Linked DNA regions of Homo sapiens: region 2 is linked to region 1. The links come from fine-mapping of genetic effects on gene expression. A gene starts in region 1. The other region holds a variant in brackets. All regions are shown on one strand. Distances are from middle to middle. Region 1 holds the start of MRAS (muscle RAS oncogene homolog). Region 2 overlaps MRAS (muscle RAS oncogene homolog).

Region 1 (8,334 bases):
ATCTAAGACAGGGCTCAGATGACCTACAGCACAGGGTCAGACCCATCACTATGTCTGGTGTCAGGCACGCTGTGAGTGCTCAGAAACTCACGGCTTCTTTTACCCTTAGGGAATACACTGAAGTTGGGAGGTTTTTTGTTTGTTTGTTTGTTTGTTTGTTTTTGAGACAGAGTTTCACCCTTGTTGCCCAGGCTGGAGTGCAATGGTGCGATCTCGGCCCACTGCAACCTCCACCTTCTGGGTTCAAGTGATTCTCCTGCCTCAGCCTCCCAAGTAGATGGCATTACAGGCATGCGCCACCATGTTTGGCTAATTTTGTGTTTTTAGTAGAGGTGGGGTTTCACCATGTTGGTCAGGCTGGTCTCAAACTCCTGACCTGAGGTGATCCACCTGACTCGGCCTCCCAAAGTGCTGGGATTACAGATGTGAGCCACCGCGTCTGGCCTGAAGCTGGGAGTTCTAGAGGAAGGCTGGGCCACAATGACCTGGTTGACTTCCAGCCCCAAGGTCCCAAGCCCCCACGTTTGCTGCTGAACTAGGCACCAGTTTGGATTGGCTCTGAGGCATGGCACTCAGCAAGCCTCAGGGCAGAGAGGCAAGTGTAGGACATGTTGCAGTGGATGAAGTATGTTTGTTTTGTCCTGCTCTGGGTCAGTTCAGTGGCTCTGACTTTAGCCAGAAATTGGCTCCTGGCCCTGTGTCTGACCTTGGACCTCTGTGGATTAAATTTGGGCCTGAGCCTTGCCTGGGTTTTTGGCTAGGTGTCTGGCCTTCTGCCATGCCTCAAACACACCTGATCAGCCAGGCACATCTGCCAGAGACTTTGGAAAGACTTCTGCTCAATCATCCTTCAGCATATAAGGTTTTCTCCTTCCCTTCTCAGCCTAGCTAATTTTTGTTTTTTGAGATGGAGTTTCACTCTGTCCCCCAGGCTGGAGTGCAGTGGCAGGATCTCAGCTCACTGCAACTTTCGCCTCCCGGGTTCAAGCAATTCTCCTGCCTCAGCCTCTCTAGTAGCTGGGACTACAGGCACCCGCCACCACACCTGGCTAATTTTTGTTTTTTTTTTAGTAGAGACGGGGTTTCACCATATTGGCCAGGTTGGTCTTGAACTCCTGACCTTGTGATCTGCCTGCCTTGGCCTCTCAAAGTGCTGGGATTACAGGCATGAGCCACCACACCCGGCCCTAGCTAATTGTTATTTGTCCTTCCAGATGTGGCTCAGTCATCAGCTCTCACAGAAGTCCTTCCCTTGGCACTTGCCTCCTCGCCATATTGGATTAGGTGCCCTTCCTCTGGTCTTCCACAGTCCCTGTGCTTCTCTGTTCCACACCACTTGCTCCTCAGTTGGCACTCAGCTTGCTTGAAGGCAGGTCTCTGCCCCAGTGCCCGGTACTCAGTAGATGCTCTGGCAGTGTTTACTGGATGAATGAAGCTTTTCTGCTCAGTGGCTCTGTTCTCTAAGCCCCCATTTGCCAGCAACTGAGCCACAACTTGTATTTCAAGGTTCAAAGAGCAGAGGAGGCAGCTCAAATGGAACAGCCCATCCGCAATCGCAATCTGCAAGATTTACTCTCACCATTAGGCAATCTTAGGTAGGTCAAGCACAGTGTCTCACACTTGTAATCCCAGCACTTTGGGAGACCCAGATAGGTGGATTGCTTGAGTCCCAGGAGTTCGAGATCAGCCTCGGGAACATCTCTACAAAAAGTACAAGAAGTAGCCAGGCATGGTGGTGCACACCTATAGTCCCAGCTACTCAGGATGCTGAGGTAAGAAGATGTCTTGAGTCCGGGAGGTCGAGGCTGCAGTGAGCTATGATGCTATGATCATGCGACTGCATTATAGCCTGGGTGACAGAGCGAGACTCTGTCTCAAAAAAAAAAAAAAAAAAAAAAAAAAAAAAGGAGAATCCCAGGTACCTGGGTATGACTATTAGCTGTTTAAGTTCCATTTCTGAGAAGAGGTATTATTACAGATATGTGTATAAAAGCAGTATAAAGACATCTCTTTGACTCTTGCATAGATGTTGGCTCAGCTCAAGCTGAGGGCATGGTCAGGGTCTTGTGCCAGTCAGGGCCCAAGAGAGGACATCTCTTACATGGGGAGCCCACGAGGGGCTGACAGGCCACCAGGATGTACAGATCCCTGCCCGCCTTCCCAAGTTCTGTGGTAAATAGAGGGGGTTGAGGGAGTCAGGTTCCAGGGCAAACCTAGACAGTCGAGGTAAACTACTGTCCCTCAAGCCTTCTCCCCAACCAGGTCTTTTACTCCCTACTGCCAAGGAGAGATACTCTTGATGGCACCCAACCTGCTGTCCCCTTCCTGGGGGACACTTGGGGTCTACAGGGTCTTTGGAGCAGCAGGTGGGAGTGGAGGCACAGGGGGTGCACAGCAGCTCCCACCAAATGGCTGCATGGGTGGCTGGGATGCCAAAGGAAGCCTGCATGGGATTAAGAGCCTCAGCATGGCAGGCAGAGCCAGCAGCACTGTGAGGCTCCCTTAGGCCTGGGGCAAACCTGAGAAGGGAGTGGGTTCCCTGGACATGTAAAGCTGGTTCTAAGTCATTGAGGTCCACCCAGAAAAAGAATGTCCTCAGAAATGATGCTGACAATCAAAACCACAATGAAATGCCATTTCGCCCCCAATAGGATGACTAGAATAAAAAAAGACACACAATTACAAGTGTTTGCAAAGATGTGGAGATATTGGAACCCTCATATGTTGTTGGTGGGAATGTAAAATGGTGCAGCTGCTTTGGAAAACAGTTTGGCAGTTCCCCCAAAAGTTAAACATGGAGTTAACATATGATCCAGGAATTCCACTCTTAGGTATATACCCAAGAGAAAGAAAAGCATATGTTCATACAAAGACTTGTACATGAATATTCATAGCAGCTTTATTCACAGTAGCCCCAAAGCAGAAAACTAAATATCCATCAAGTGATGCAGGGATAAACAAAACGTATAGACATACAGTGAAATATTACTCAGTCATGAAAAGGAATGAAGTACTGCTACATGTTACAACATGAATAGATCATTAAACATTGGTTACTGAAAGAAGCTAGTCATAGTCACAAAAGGCCACATGTTGTATGATTCCGTTTATAGAAAATGTCCTGAATAGGGAAATCCATAGAGATTGAAAGTAGATTAGTGGTTCCCAGAGGCGGAGGAAAGGGGTGAATGAGGAGTGACTGCTAACGGGTAGTTCTTTTTGTGAGGGGCAGGGGAGGGGAGTGGGAAGTGGTGAAAATGTTCTGGAATTAGCTCATGGTGATGGTTGCAAAACTTTGTGAATATGCTAAACACCACTGAATCGTACACTTTTTTTTTTTTGAGACAGCGTCTCACTCTGTTGCCCAGGCTAGAGTGCAGTAGCGCAATCTCGGCTCACTACAACCTCTGCCTCCCGGGTTCACGTGATTCTCCTGCCTCAGCCTCCCGAGTAGATGAGATCACAGGCACGTGCCGCCATGCCGGGTTGACTTTTGTATTTTTAGTAGAGACGGGGTTTCACCATGTTGCCTAGGCTGGTCTTGAACTCCTGACCTCAGGCGATTCACCCGCCTCGGCCTCCCAAAGTGTTAGGATTACAGGCGTGAGCCACCGCGCCCGGCTTGAATTGTACACTTCAAAAGGTGGAATTTTATGGTGTTGAATTATATCTTTATTTTTTTAACGGGGGGAAAATGACGCCGCTGGAGAGGAGTTAGCGGAACTGAAACAATGAAATGGTGCGCGAGTGTCGCCTGTCCCCGTCGCATCCATCCCAACGAAGTTTGGGCCCTGGAACGGTGCACCCAGAAGGCCTGCGGGGAGAGACGCTGGGGCATGATCTGGAAGAAAGACGTCTCAGGATTCGAAGGGAATGCAGCTAAGGTGGCGGCGGAGGTTCGCCTAGGACTGGGGAGGCGTCCCTAGGCTCAGAAGTTGGCCCGGCCGGAGCGGAGATTTAAAGGTTGGAGCGCAGAGGCTCTTAAAGAGGCCGAGTCGAATTCCCACTCGGCGTCCACCTTAAAGCCAGCTCCCCGGCACCACGGATCTGACCCGGGTAAGTGCTGGGCCGCGGGAGAGGCTGCGGCGCCGACCCCAGCCCCTGGCGCTCTAGCGCGCCCTGCCGGGCCCAGGGGACTCGGCGCGGGTGGGCTGGACTTCGTAGGCGCGCGTCCTGGGGGCCGGGGTGCACGCGGGGGCGACAGGGTCGAGGCACCCGGCCCGGGCTCCCCACTGGCGCGCCCGCAGCGGCGCTCTATTTTTAGCAGGCGCTGTGGCAATATAAGGAATGCGCGGCGCGCTAGGCGCTCGGGGCGCACGCTGGCGGCGCGGTCGCTTTAAGGAGGCGCCGGGGCGGGGACGGACCGGAGTGGCCGGCTGGCGGGGAGCCGTCAGTCCGGCGGCCGCGGGGCCCGGCGGGCGCGACGCTGCCTCCTCACCGGCGCAGGCTAGGAGGGGGCGGCCTGAGTGCCGTAGCCGAGCCGGGGCTGGAGCGCGCGGTGAGTGGTCGGGCGGCCTTGGAGGGGAGGGGGCCCGGCCGCGCCGCCTCTCGCCCCGGCCGTCGCTTTGTTCCGGGGCGGGAGGTGTGGCCGCCCTCCGGGCTCGGCCGCGCTCTCCGCTTGCGGGGTGCGCCCTGGGACCGGCTGTGCGTGGCGTTTTGCCCCCATCGCGGGCTCCCGCGTAACGGTGTGCGTTCGTGAAATCGGCCACGACCAAGACCCCAGTGGGGAGGGCCTGCGCGCCGCTCAGAGAGACCCTTTCATGGTAATTACAGTTCCTTGGCTGCCTGGGCGAGAACCCGGTGGATAGATGGGCGGCAGGACGGGGCGGCGGGGGATGGGTGGGTGGGTGGGGGACTCTTTACCCCCCCGCCTTAAGATGGCGTTAACGAGGGGAGGGATCCGCCAGGGAGTTGACAAATTCATCTGAATAATAAAACGCAGCCTGCTTCATAAACAACCCTTCACTGCCCCCGGAGGTTTGGGGAGCTGGAGCTGTGGTCACAACTAGGGCCTGGGCTCATGCATTGAACTGATCTGGCTGAGGCATCAGACACGGTGCCAGTCCTGCCCTGCGGGGAAGACAAGAGCACAAAGTGACAAGCCAGTGTGGTAAGTGCTGAGATTCGGTAAGCCCAGGGGTTGTGGGAGCCCCTAGGGGTCCCTACTGCAGAGTGGGAGGTGAGAGAAGGCCGCCTAGAGGAGTTAATGTCTGGCTGGCCGCAGCGTATACACTGGACACCCAGTTAGACTCTGGCTAGAGCTGAGGTCTGTTCTGGCCTGGGGCAAAGTGGAGTCTGGAGAGGTGGACAGAGTCCATCAAGGCCACTGGGGCCTTGATCATAGAGCTCTGCCATTGCCCCTACTCCCCAATGGCCCCTGATGGTGTGGAACCTCCCTGGCCTTGCTCCTCTAGGACTCACTCTGTCCTGGACCTGACCAGAGAGGGTGGCTGACAAGGCTCGGAATCGTGGCCTCCAGAGGTTTGTCTGGCAGCAGAAGTAAGATGGAGATATGACTTTAAGAGCTCTGAAACTCCACTGTAATAACAGCAACCAACAGGGCTTCCAAAGACCAGGCACTTGAAGTGGATTTGCTCATCATTTGACAAGACACCTCTTGACAAGACACCTCCAGAAGGATTTTGTTTATTGTAAAGGATGGAGGAACTGGGGTGAAAAAGAGCCAACAGCTTGCCCAAGATCATATCTGAAGTCCATGCTTTTGGCCACGTGGCTGTCCTGGGCTTCGGAAGGCTCTGGTGCAGCCTGTGTTAGAGTTTTGTAATATATTGTTTTATAATTATTCACTATAGACATTCACTGGTGGGTTGAAGTGTGAGGCAGTGAGCTGTGGGTATTAATAACTGACTCGTGTCAGAAGCTTAGCAGTGAACAAAGCACTTTCTCGGATACGGTTCTTAGAGCTTCTCCTGCTTCTTTTCCCGGGGAAGAAACTTGAGCTGCTAACATTTTGTAAACCTCCTAATTTCCTGTAAATCACATGTCCCTGCTGAGTGGGGCTGAAAATGTTTCGGGCAATGGTTTTCACCCTTAGGTCTGTTCACACTGCCCAGCAGCCAGTTAGCTTCTCTCTGTAGTTTATGGTGTAGTTTGTCCTTTTTCTGCCGGGGTGGGAGGCATGGGGCTTTCATGCTCTGGGGTTTTTGAGGTCTGCCAGCCTCTGGGGAGGGAGGTGTTGGGCAAGCCTCGTGCTCTGGTGGAAACTGACCCCCTAGATGTGACCTCGGCATTTCCTAAAGCTGGGGGCGGGACTGGGGTAGGCGGTAGTCAAGGCCCTTTGGTGAAGCAAGCGATTGTCTCCAGCGTTGTCAGCTTCGCTCCTCCATAAGACAGTTGCTAATTTCCACCTCTGTTTTCACCTACATAAGACACTTTATGACAGGTTTAACTTTTATGTTATTATTAGCTCTAGCCACTGGTATTTCATACTCAGTTCGTCTGAGCTACTTATAAAGTGACAAGTCCAGCCAGGGCAACATGGTGAAACTCCGTCTCTACAAAAATTAGCTGGGCCTGGTGGCATGCACCTGTAGTCTTAGCTACTTGGGAGGCTGAGGTGGGAGGATTGCTTAAGCCCAGAAGGCAGAGGTTGGAGTGAGCCATGATCACGCCACTGCACTCCAGCTTGGGTGACAGAGCAAGACCCTGTCTCAAAAAAAAAAAAAAAAAAAAAAGTGACAAGTCAGTTACCCTTGGGGTTGGTTTGGTTCCTAAGCTCTAGTGATCACCTGGAACCAGGAATGACTATTGGCCTCTGATAAATTAGGCTCCTGGGATGACTGGTCCTAACCTCAGTCAGAATCACATGTTGACCAGCCTCCTGGATCTAGTGAGTTCTCAGGGAAATGTGGCTTCCATAATATATTTCACATCAGATTTAACCATTGTAATCTGTTCTGCCAATGAAATGCCCCCAAACAGAGTGTGTCTCCCTGAAAGCAATTGAAAAACATACCTGCTCATGAGCATTGTGTAGTTTGTACAAGCATACTCATGTGAACTGAATGGGAATGCATTCTTGTGCAATGCTGGAATGTTCTTAAGTGTCCAGAGGATGTGCATTGAGTTCCAGAGGCTCTGTACCTGCCAGGCCCTGGGCAGGCATAGAAGGTACAGTCACCTTTATCTGGAGACAGGTAAAAAAGGAGCTGGAGGAGTTCCCTGAGACCTGGGACACCTGGCAGGTACCCATTGTCTAGGGACTCAGCAGAGAATTCAAGCTTTAAGAGGAATTTTCTTGCTGGACTCTGAGTCCCTGTCAGCCCTCCTAAGTCTTAGATCATGCCTCTGAGCCCTGTAGTACTGAATCAATGGGGATGCTTTGGCTGCAAGTAACAAAACCCAAATAACAGTAAGTAAGATTAAGCAGAGCTCAGATCTCCCAAAGATGCTCTCTGCTCTTGGAAGGTCTCTGTACACAGGAATGGGATATCAGTGCCACTTCCAGCAAGTTCCTGCATGGGACAGGTAGCCATAAAGGCTGAGTGTCTGGAGTTCAGAGTAATAGGTTTTGTCTTCTTGAGTCACAGCCTCTTTAATATGTTGATGAGAAGCCCAGGGAACGTTGATGTACAAAGTTGGACATATAATTCAGGGGATTCATGGATCTCTGAAAACCAGCCCTGGATCCCAGTTTAGCCATCTCTGATCTAAAGGCACGTGACTTCTCTAATGTTCATGGCAGACCTATTCTGTAAGCCCATTGTGCAGCCAAGTCAGCATGCCATTCCAGTGCAGTGTGAGAGGGCAGAGATGGGGGCCAAGAGTACAAATAGAGTGGGACAGTTGTCATTGCCCAGCCTGTGAGTTGAAGTCTGTGCAGTCAGCCAGTGGGTCTGACAAAGAGGGCAGTGCTGGCACTGCCTCATGCTTCCGCAGAGGTGATGAGGTTCAGGCTGAGGTGGAGACCACGCTGCACTCGCCATGCATTCAATGGTGCCCCATCTCTTGTTCTCTAGGAAGCATTCCCGCTACCTGTGTGATGCAGTTGGTTCCACCTATTCCCAGAGACTCCACCCTGGCCCTCCTTGCCCTGGCCCCCAGCACTGAGCCCCTAGGGCCATTTAGCTGGCCAGCATGATCTAAGACAGCTTTCTGCAGGCATTCCTCTTGTAGGAGTCATGAAGCAGCAATGTGTATTTTGCTTCTTTTTGTTGTTGTTATATTAAAAAATATTTTTATATTCTAGTCCAATCCTTATTATTTGATTTTTTTGGTTATATGTTATATATAAAAATGTATTTTTTGTATTTTGCTTCTTAATGTCCCTATCATTGTCTTTAATATTCTTGGTAGCTTCACTAGGTGGGGACT
Region 2 (8,334 bases), 32 kb after region 1:
GAGGTGGGAGAATCACTTGAGCTCAGGAGGCAAAGATTGCAGTGAGCCGAGACTGCGCCACCTCACTCCAGCCTGGGCAACAGAGTGAGACTCCCTCTCAAAAAAACAAAACAAAACAAAAAAACTTTGTAAATATGTTTTAAAAGCACTGAATTATATACTTTTAAAGTATTAATATTATGGCATGTAGATTGTATCTCAATTTTAAAAAGCACCGTCCTCCAAGGGTTTGTCTGCAGCCCTGGGACTTTGAACAATTTGAACAGGTACCAAGCACCTTCCCATCTTGGGACTTTGCATTTTGTCTTCTCTCTGCCTAGAACATTGTTCCTGCAGAAACACTGATTTCATTTAGGTCTCAGCTCAAATGTCACTTTATCTAAGAGGTCTTCCCTGACCAAACCATTGACACTAGTATCCACCCCACCCCAGTCATTTCTATGCCCAACTCTGTTCTTCTTTATTCTGCCTTTTATGGTTGGACATATTTTATCTTTGTTTGTGTTTTTGTCTCTGCTGACTAAAATATAAATGTCTGAGAGCAGGGACTTTATTTACTGACTGCATTATTCCTAGCATCTAGAATACTGCTTGGCTCATAGTAGCTCCCCAGTAAACATTTGTGGAATGACCAAATGAAAGAATAAACCTTGAACAATATATGTGTAGTGAAAGGTTTGATGTGCTAGCTATATTATTTTTTTCTAACTCACATTACAATAATAAGTATATATAACTATTAAAATTAAAACTTACATCTGTGCACTTTCTAAAATCATTTCATGCATCACCTATTGGAATATATGGCACACTTTGGGATATACTGAGTTAAATAAATGTAAACAAGTTTCTTCACTGCAGGACTTACAAGAACTTTTAACATGCAAACACATATTAGAGGTGTAGTGATAGGATACATTGTCCTTAGAGCTTCCCACAGGGGTCATTTTTTGCACGTGATTCTGAACTATGTTCCATAGAGAACATTCTGAAACACATTGCATAATGCATGTAAGAAAGTAACACCATGCCTGGTACATCGTTGGAACTCAATCAGTATTTCTCTCTACAGCCATATAAACTTCTCTGACTTTTTCCTGAGTACCTTTGGATGTTAAATTGGTTTCTGAGGAAAAATGTTTTCCTCAAGATTGAATGTTTTCCTCAACATTTATAGCAGGAGCAGCAGGGAGAGGGGAAACATGGCCGCAGCATTATATTAGAAGTGTGCATTTGCAAAGCCTGTGTTCTGAATGCCTGGGCTCTCCATGGCATTACTTTAGAAGAATGAGTTTGTTAAGCTTCTAATTCTGCCACCAGAGTCAGGCCCGATTTAGGGCATTGCCCACCCAGGCCTTCCTCGGGAATAGACACCAGATTCCCAGATTAGATGCTTCTCCACTCCATTAGATCTGCTATTAAGAAAAGGAAGACTTGGCCGGGTGCGGTGGCTCACGCCTGTAATCCCACCACTTTGTGAGGCCGAGGTGGGTGGATCACGAGGTCAGGAGTTTGAGACCAGCCTGACCAACATAGTGAAACCCCGCTTCTACTAAAAATACAAAAAAAATTAGCCAGGCCTGGTGGCGCCTGTCATCTCAGCTACTCGGGAGCCTGAGGCAGGAGAATTGCCTGAACCCAGGAGGCGGAGGTTGCAGTGAGTAACTCTGAACCTTTCTGGGGCTGAACTTTTCTGGAGTGGTCTGCACCCCTCAGATGGCCAGGACTTCCCTGGGCATCTGGATCCCAGGGGTCCTGCTCCCCTGAGGCCATGCCATCTTCGGGGAGGTGCTAAGCCTGGAGGTGCCCTCAGTTGCCCTGTACCCCACTGAACTCCAGGGGATCTCAACTCTGCAGTTTCTCTTCTTCCAAACTCAGAAAGAATAAAAACGTGGCAGCACGATGATGAGGAGAAGGAAGAGAATGATAATTTTGATGACGGGGTATTGAATGGGCAGAAACTGTGTGGAAGGCCCGTGCTAAGCACATTGCATTTGCTGTCTTTGAATCCTTACAAATGCTATCGTGGTAGTTGCTGTTGTTATTTCTGTTTTATAGTTGAAGAAAATACAGCAAAAGTTTCACACAACCAGCAACAGTTTGAGCTACCTGTTGACTCCTACCCACTGTCAGTCTGGTTGTGTAGGAAAATCCTCCCCCACAGCACAGTGGATCCTTGTGCCTCTGGGAAGGGGAGCTGAAGTCCCAGGAAGAAGTGGGTGTGGCTGAACTATCATACCTCTTCTGCCCTTCTTACTCCTCACCCAGGGTCCTTCAGAGAACCAGGTGCTCCGGTTGTGATCTCAGTCTCACGTCAGAGATTTGCAAGCTGCTTAAGGAAGCCTTCTCTGTGACTTCCACACTGATTATTCTCACAGGCTGCCTGCTTTCTTGCAAACCTGTTTCTTGTTTTCTTCCAGGAAGTCACATTGCCTGTGTCCTCCCAGAACCTAAGAGACAAGAGCTGGCTGGCCTCAGGGGCCAGCAGCCAGGCTCTCCTGTGGCTGTGGGACCCCCAGGCTTTGGAGCAAGCCTGCTCTGAGTTCTTTCCTGCAAGGGTTCGGGATCCTCATCTCACTTTATATTGTCAAGGGCCCAACCCTCGGAGCCTCTCTTCCTCCCCGTCTGGTCCCTGCTTCTCCACTGTGGGGTTTGCTTCGGCTGTCCCATCTCCATGCTCTCAGCCCTCTCCTCCTGTCTCTGACTTTGGAACACCACCTCACCTTGGCTTTCAGCTGTGTGACTGCCCTCACCCCAATTCTCTCTTGTCATGAATCAGGAAGCCCCAAACCTTCGGCAGAGCCATAGAGTTTTGTGTTTGTTTGTTTTATTGTGATAAAGTGTACATAACATAAAAGTTACCATCTTAACCATCTCTAAGTGCATAGTGCATTCACTTTGTTCTACAACCATCCCTGCCATTCATCTCCAGAACCTTTTCACCTTCCTCAACTGAAACTCTGTACCTATTAAACACTGACTCCCCATTCTCCCCTCTCCTCAGTCCCTGGCAACCACTATTCTGCTTGCTCCCTTTTCTTTTATTGATATCATATTCATACATATTTTGAGGGCATGGTAATGATCAAATCCAGGTAATTAGCATATCCATCACCTCAAACATTCTTTCTTTGTATTGGGAACATTACAATTCTTCTCTTCTAGCTATTTTGAAATTTGCAATGAATTATTGTTAACTATAATTTCCCTACTGTGCTATCAAATACTAGAACTTATTCCTTCTCTTTGTATTTCTGTACCCATTAACCAACTTCTCTTCATCCCCCCACCCACACACCCTTCCCAGCCTTTGATGTCAATCATTCCACTCTCTACCTCCATGAAATCCACTGTTTTAGCTCCCACATATCAGTGAGAGCATGCAATATTTGTCTTTCTGTGCCTGGCTTGTTTCACTTAACATAATGACCTCCAGTTCCATCCATGTTGCTGCAAATGACAGAATGTCTTTTTTTTTTTTTTTTTTTTTTTTGAGACGGAGTCTCACACTTGTTGGGCAGACTAGAGTTCAGTGGCACGATCACTGCAACCTCCCCCTCCCGGGTTCAAGCAATTCTCCTGCCTAAGCCTCCCAAGTAGCTGAAATTACAGGCACCTGCCAACACGCTCGGCTAATTTTTGTATTTTTAGTAGAGATGGGGTTTCACCATCTTGGCTAGGTTGGTCTCGAACTCCTGACCTCAGGTGATCTGCCCACCTCGGCCTCCCAAAGTGCTGGCATTACAGGCATGAGCCACTGCGCCCAGCCTCATTCTTTGTTATGGATGAATAATATTCTATTGTGTATATATGCTACATTTTCTTTATCATTCATTCATTGAAAGGCACTTAGGTTGCTTCCTTACTCTTGGCTATTGTGACTAGCGCTATGATAAACATGGGAGTGCAGGTATCACTTCAATATACTGATTTCCTTTCCTTTGAGTGTATACTCAGCAGTAGGATTGCTGGACCATATGGTAGCTCTATTTTTAGTTTTTTGAGGGATCTCCATACCATTTTCCATAGTGGCTATACTAGTTTATATTCCCACCAGCAGTATCCAAACATTCTCTTTTCTCCACATCTTCCCTAGCATTTGTTATTTTTTGTCTTTTTGATAATAGCCATTGTAACTGGGGTGAGATGTTATCTCATTGTAGTTTTGATTTGCATTTCATTGTAGTTTTGATTTGCATTTCTCTGATGATTAGCGATGTTGATAATTTTTTCATATACCTGCTATCCATTTGTTTGTCTCTGAGAAATGCCTATTCAGGTCTTTTGCCCTTTAAATCAGAATTTTATTTTATTTTGCTAATGAGTTGTTTGAGTTTCTTATATATTCAGGTTATTAATCCCTTGCCCCTTAAACACTAAGTCCCCATTTTCCCCTCTCCTCAGTCCTTGGCAACCACCATTCTACTTTCTTTTTTTTTTCTGAAATGAGGTCTCACTCTGTCACCCAGGCCGGAATGCAGTGGTGCGATCTCGGTTCACTGCAACCTCCGCTTTCTGAGTTCAAGTGATTATCCTGCCTCACCCTCCTGAGGAGCTGGGATTACAGGCG[T/C]GCACCACCACGCCTGGCTAATTTTTGTATTTTTAGTAGGGATGGGGTTTCCGTGTTGGCCAGGCTGATCTCGAACTCCTGGCCTCAGGTGATCCACCCACCTCGGCCTCCTAAAGTGCTGGGATTATAGGCGTGAGCCACCGCGCCCGGCTTCTACTTTCTGTCTCTATGTATTTAACTAATCTAGATACCTCATTTGAGTGCTATGATAAGTGGAATAATATTTGTCCTTTTATGTGGCTGGCTTATTTTAATTAGTACAATCTATTCAAGGTTCATCCATGTTGCTGCATGTTCTGAATTTCTTTCCTTTTTTTTTCTTTTTTTTTTGAGACGGTGTCTCGCTCTGTCGCCAGGCTGGAGTGCAGTGGTGTGATCTCGGCTCACTGCAGCCTCCGCCTCCCGGGTTCAAGTGATTCTCCTGCCTCAGTCTTCCGAGTAGCTGGGACTATAGGCACGTGCCACCACACCCAGCTAATTTTTGTATTTTTAGTAGAGACTGGTAGCATTTTCACCATGCTGGCCAGCATGGTCTCAATCTCTTGACCTCGTGATCCACCCGCCTCGGCCTCCCAAAGTGTTGGGTTTACAGGCATGAGCCGCCACGCCCGGCCTTCTCTCCGTTTTAAAGCTGAATGATATTCCACTGTATGGATGTACCATGTTTTCATTATCTGTTCATCTGTGGATGGACACTTGGGTGGTTTCCACCTTTTTGCTGTTATGAATAACGCTGCTATGAGCATGGTATATAAATATCTGAGTCCCTGCTTTCCTTCTTTCGTCTTAGAGTTCTTGTGTGCCTATTTTTTCTGTTGGTTAGGGATGGAAGGCTGCTAAGCCCCTCACTTTACAATTGTGGAAACTGAGGTACAGATGGAGAGGTCACTAGTCTAGGGTGAGACCTAGCTAGCTGGAGAGCCAGGTTTTGGGCTTCTTGACTCTGCCGAGCGTGTCCTCCACCCTGTCCCACTACCTCCTGCTTTGGCCCAGGCCTTGGGCCTTTAAGGTGGGATGCTGACCAAATCCTCTCCTCACTTACAACAGGGCAGATGTCTCTGGGCCTCCCCACCCTCTGGCTCCCAGCCCCGCCCTCTGCCCAGCCAGCCTCTGGAACTTTGCATCTTTCTTCCATCGGTGGAGAACAGCAGTGGGCCCTGAGTCTCCAGACACTGCTTCCTACCTTGGGGTTCTTGGGCCCAGCTCCGCAACCTCTCTGTCTCCGACTCCCCAGCAAGTGCCCAGTGTTTTCAAAGAGCAAAAGCCTGGCTCTTCTCCTGCACCATCAGAAGCTGGGACATTTCCACCCTGGCTTCTGCCCAAACCTCAGACACAAGTGCTGTTGTCTTCTCAGAGGGGCCTGAACCTGGCTTTTCCCCCACACACTTGAATCCACATTCTTTCTGGGGACGAGGAGGAGAGGAGGACATTTGAAGGGCAGGGAGAGGAAAAGGAACGTTTACTGAGTTTTTTTTTCCTGAACCAGGGGCTTTACCAGGGGGCTTTATGCTCAGCAGGCCTTAGGCCAGCTTCAGAGTGGGCACTCTCCATAGGCCCCAACTAAGAATGGGGTGCAGGCAGAGCTGGCCTGTCACCCACCAAGGGGAAGCTGCCCTTCCCCTGCCAGCAGTGATGTGGGAGGAATTTCCCTCTTTCCCTTCATAGGGAAGCATGGCTGCTGGCCTGAGATTATGCAATCCAGCCCTGCAGGCCTGGGCCTGACCCTTTGTCCCTGCTGCATCAGCCATGCTGCTGAAATGCCTCACTGATCTCCATGGTGCCCAGGGCAGTGCTCTCTGGTAGAAAGCCCTTCCTCACATTGCTGACACATCTCTTCCCAAATCCTCTCTTGCTGTCTGTCCTCAGAGCGGTGGTAGCAGTTACTACCAACCAGACTTTTCTTGAAGGCCTCATGCTAAGGGCTTTTACAAGGATGCCTTATTTCATCCTTGTGACAATTCTGTGAAATTGAGATTAGTCAAGTGAGAGTAAATCACTTTCCAGGTGAGCGCAGCTGCTCTGCAGCCAGTGTACCTCAGTACTGCTGTACTAGTTGGTAAAATAGTGAAGTACTCTCTACCACTGGAAAATTGCTGCTGCTGCTGCCCTGCACCCGAGGGGCCCTTCCCAGACCCACTAGCCAGGCTGGGAGCTGAAGGACCCCTCTCCAGCCACTGACCTAGAGTCAGCTCAGTGAGGCTTGGACTCAGTGATGAAGGTGTGAGTGGAATATGCAACTCCCTACACCCAACTCTTAGCACAGCCTGGGCTCGTTCCAGATTTGTCAGCATCCCAAAATCCAAGTGTTTTTCCACTTTCCTTGCTGACAATCAGGTCATATATGCCAGTTAATGTGGGGTTTTGCCTGAGTTTCAGAACTTCATGTTGGTCCCTGTTAGAAGTCATGTGACCAGTTTGGGCCAAGCACACCAGCCTGACCAATAGATCTGAGACCTCCCCTGTCTGCCATTGTGTTGGGTGATGCCACCTTCCCTGGGCCTCAGTGTTGCCTCTATCAGCCTGTGCTCCCCACACCCTGGCTCCGGTGACTGGGGCTCCTCCTCCCTTTGGGCTGCCTCTGGACAAAGACCTTGCACCCTCATCAGTGGGATCTGTATCCAAATGAGATACACCTCATAGTTGTTGCAAAGGATAAATGAAAAAAATACAAATTGTGAGTTCCTTGAGGAAAAGGACTGTGCCCACCATTGTATCTCTGATGTCAGCCCAGACTTGGCATCTATTAGGTGTTTAATTATTGTTTATTGAGTGAGGGGGGAAACAAGTCACCTTGCAAGGGCTTGGCACATAGCAGACCTCAGTAGATGCTATTGTTGCAGTGATTGCTTTAATGTGATATATATTATTGTTGTTTTTATTGTTATTTTTAGACACAGGGTCTCACCGTGCCACCCAGGCTAGAGTGCAGTGGCATGATCATAGCTTACTGCAGCCTTGAACTCCTGGGTTTAAGTGATCCGCCCACCTTGGCCTCCTAAAGCACTAGGATTACAGATGTGAGCCACTGTGTCTGGTTTATATTATTTATGAGGTGGCTTGATGGTTTCAAGAATAGGTCCCATCACCTGTATGGATGAGGGGCCACTGACACATGTCCCTGTGTCTAGGGAGGTTCAGGAGTGAGGCTTGAGCCCCTGACTTAGGGATATACCTCTCCGCCCAGAGTTGTGTGAATTGAACCCTGAGTCCTATGTACCTGGATATGTTCACTAATTCCTTCTGCAAATAATTGCTAATGTACCCATCTCTCTTTTGGGCTCTGAGGACATAGCAATTGGCAAATCAAAGCCCCTGCTCTCATGAAGCTTATATTTTAGTGGGGTGAGGGGACAGAGCATAAACAAATATGTATGGTGTCAGGTGGTGATAAGTGCTGTGATGAAGGTCAGACAAGGTAAGGGAGTCACAGTGGGGAAGTGGTTACGGTCTTGTGTTGGCTGGTCAAGGAGGGCTTTCCTGATAAGGGAATGTTGGAGCAGATACCTAAAAGAGAAAGCTGCACCTGTATCTGGAAGAGAATCTCAGTCAGTGGGAGTATCAGGTGCAAGGGCCCCGAGGCAGGGGTGTGCCTGGCCTGTGTGGGGAATAGCTAGGAAGCCAGCGTGTGGAACAAGTGAGAGCACAGCTAGTAGGAGAGAGGTCAGGCAGGTAGCTGGAAGGGATTGATCTCACAGGGTTTTGTAGGTAAATGAGAAGCCATTGGAGGATTTTGAGCAGAGGAAGGACATGATCTAACATGTTTA

Evidence for each region. PIP is the estimated chance that this variant, and not a neighbour inherited with it, causes the effect.
Region 2: its variant is fine-mapped to the expression of MRAS in whole blood (TOPMed, PIP 0.98).

Annotation. Positions count from the first base shown.
Region 1 is chr3:138,344,270-138,352,603 of GRCh38, forward strand. MRAS (muscle RAS oncogene homolog) reads left to right here and starts at 4,310. Exons shown (of 6, transcript NM_001085049.3): 1 at 4,310-4,498. RefSeq lists an enhancer at 3,822-4,777.
Region 2 is chr3:138,375,889-138,384,222 of GRCh38, forward strand. All of the region lies in intron 2 of MRAS (muscle RAS oncogene homolog), which reads left to right. Among named protein-coding and RNA genes, the nearest start is that of MRAS, 31 kb to the left of the region's middle. The variant T/C (reference allele first, on the strand shown) is at 4,571.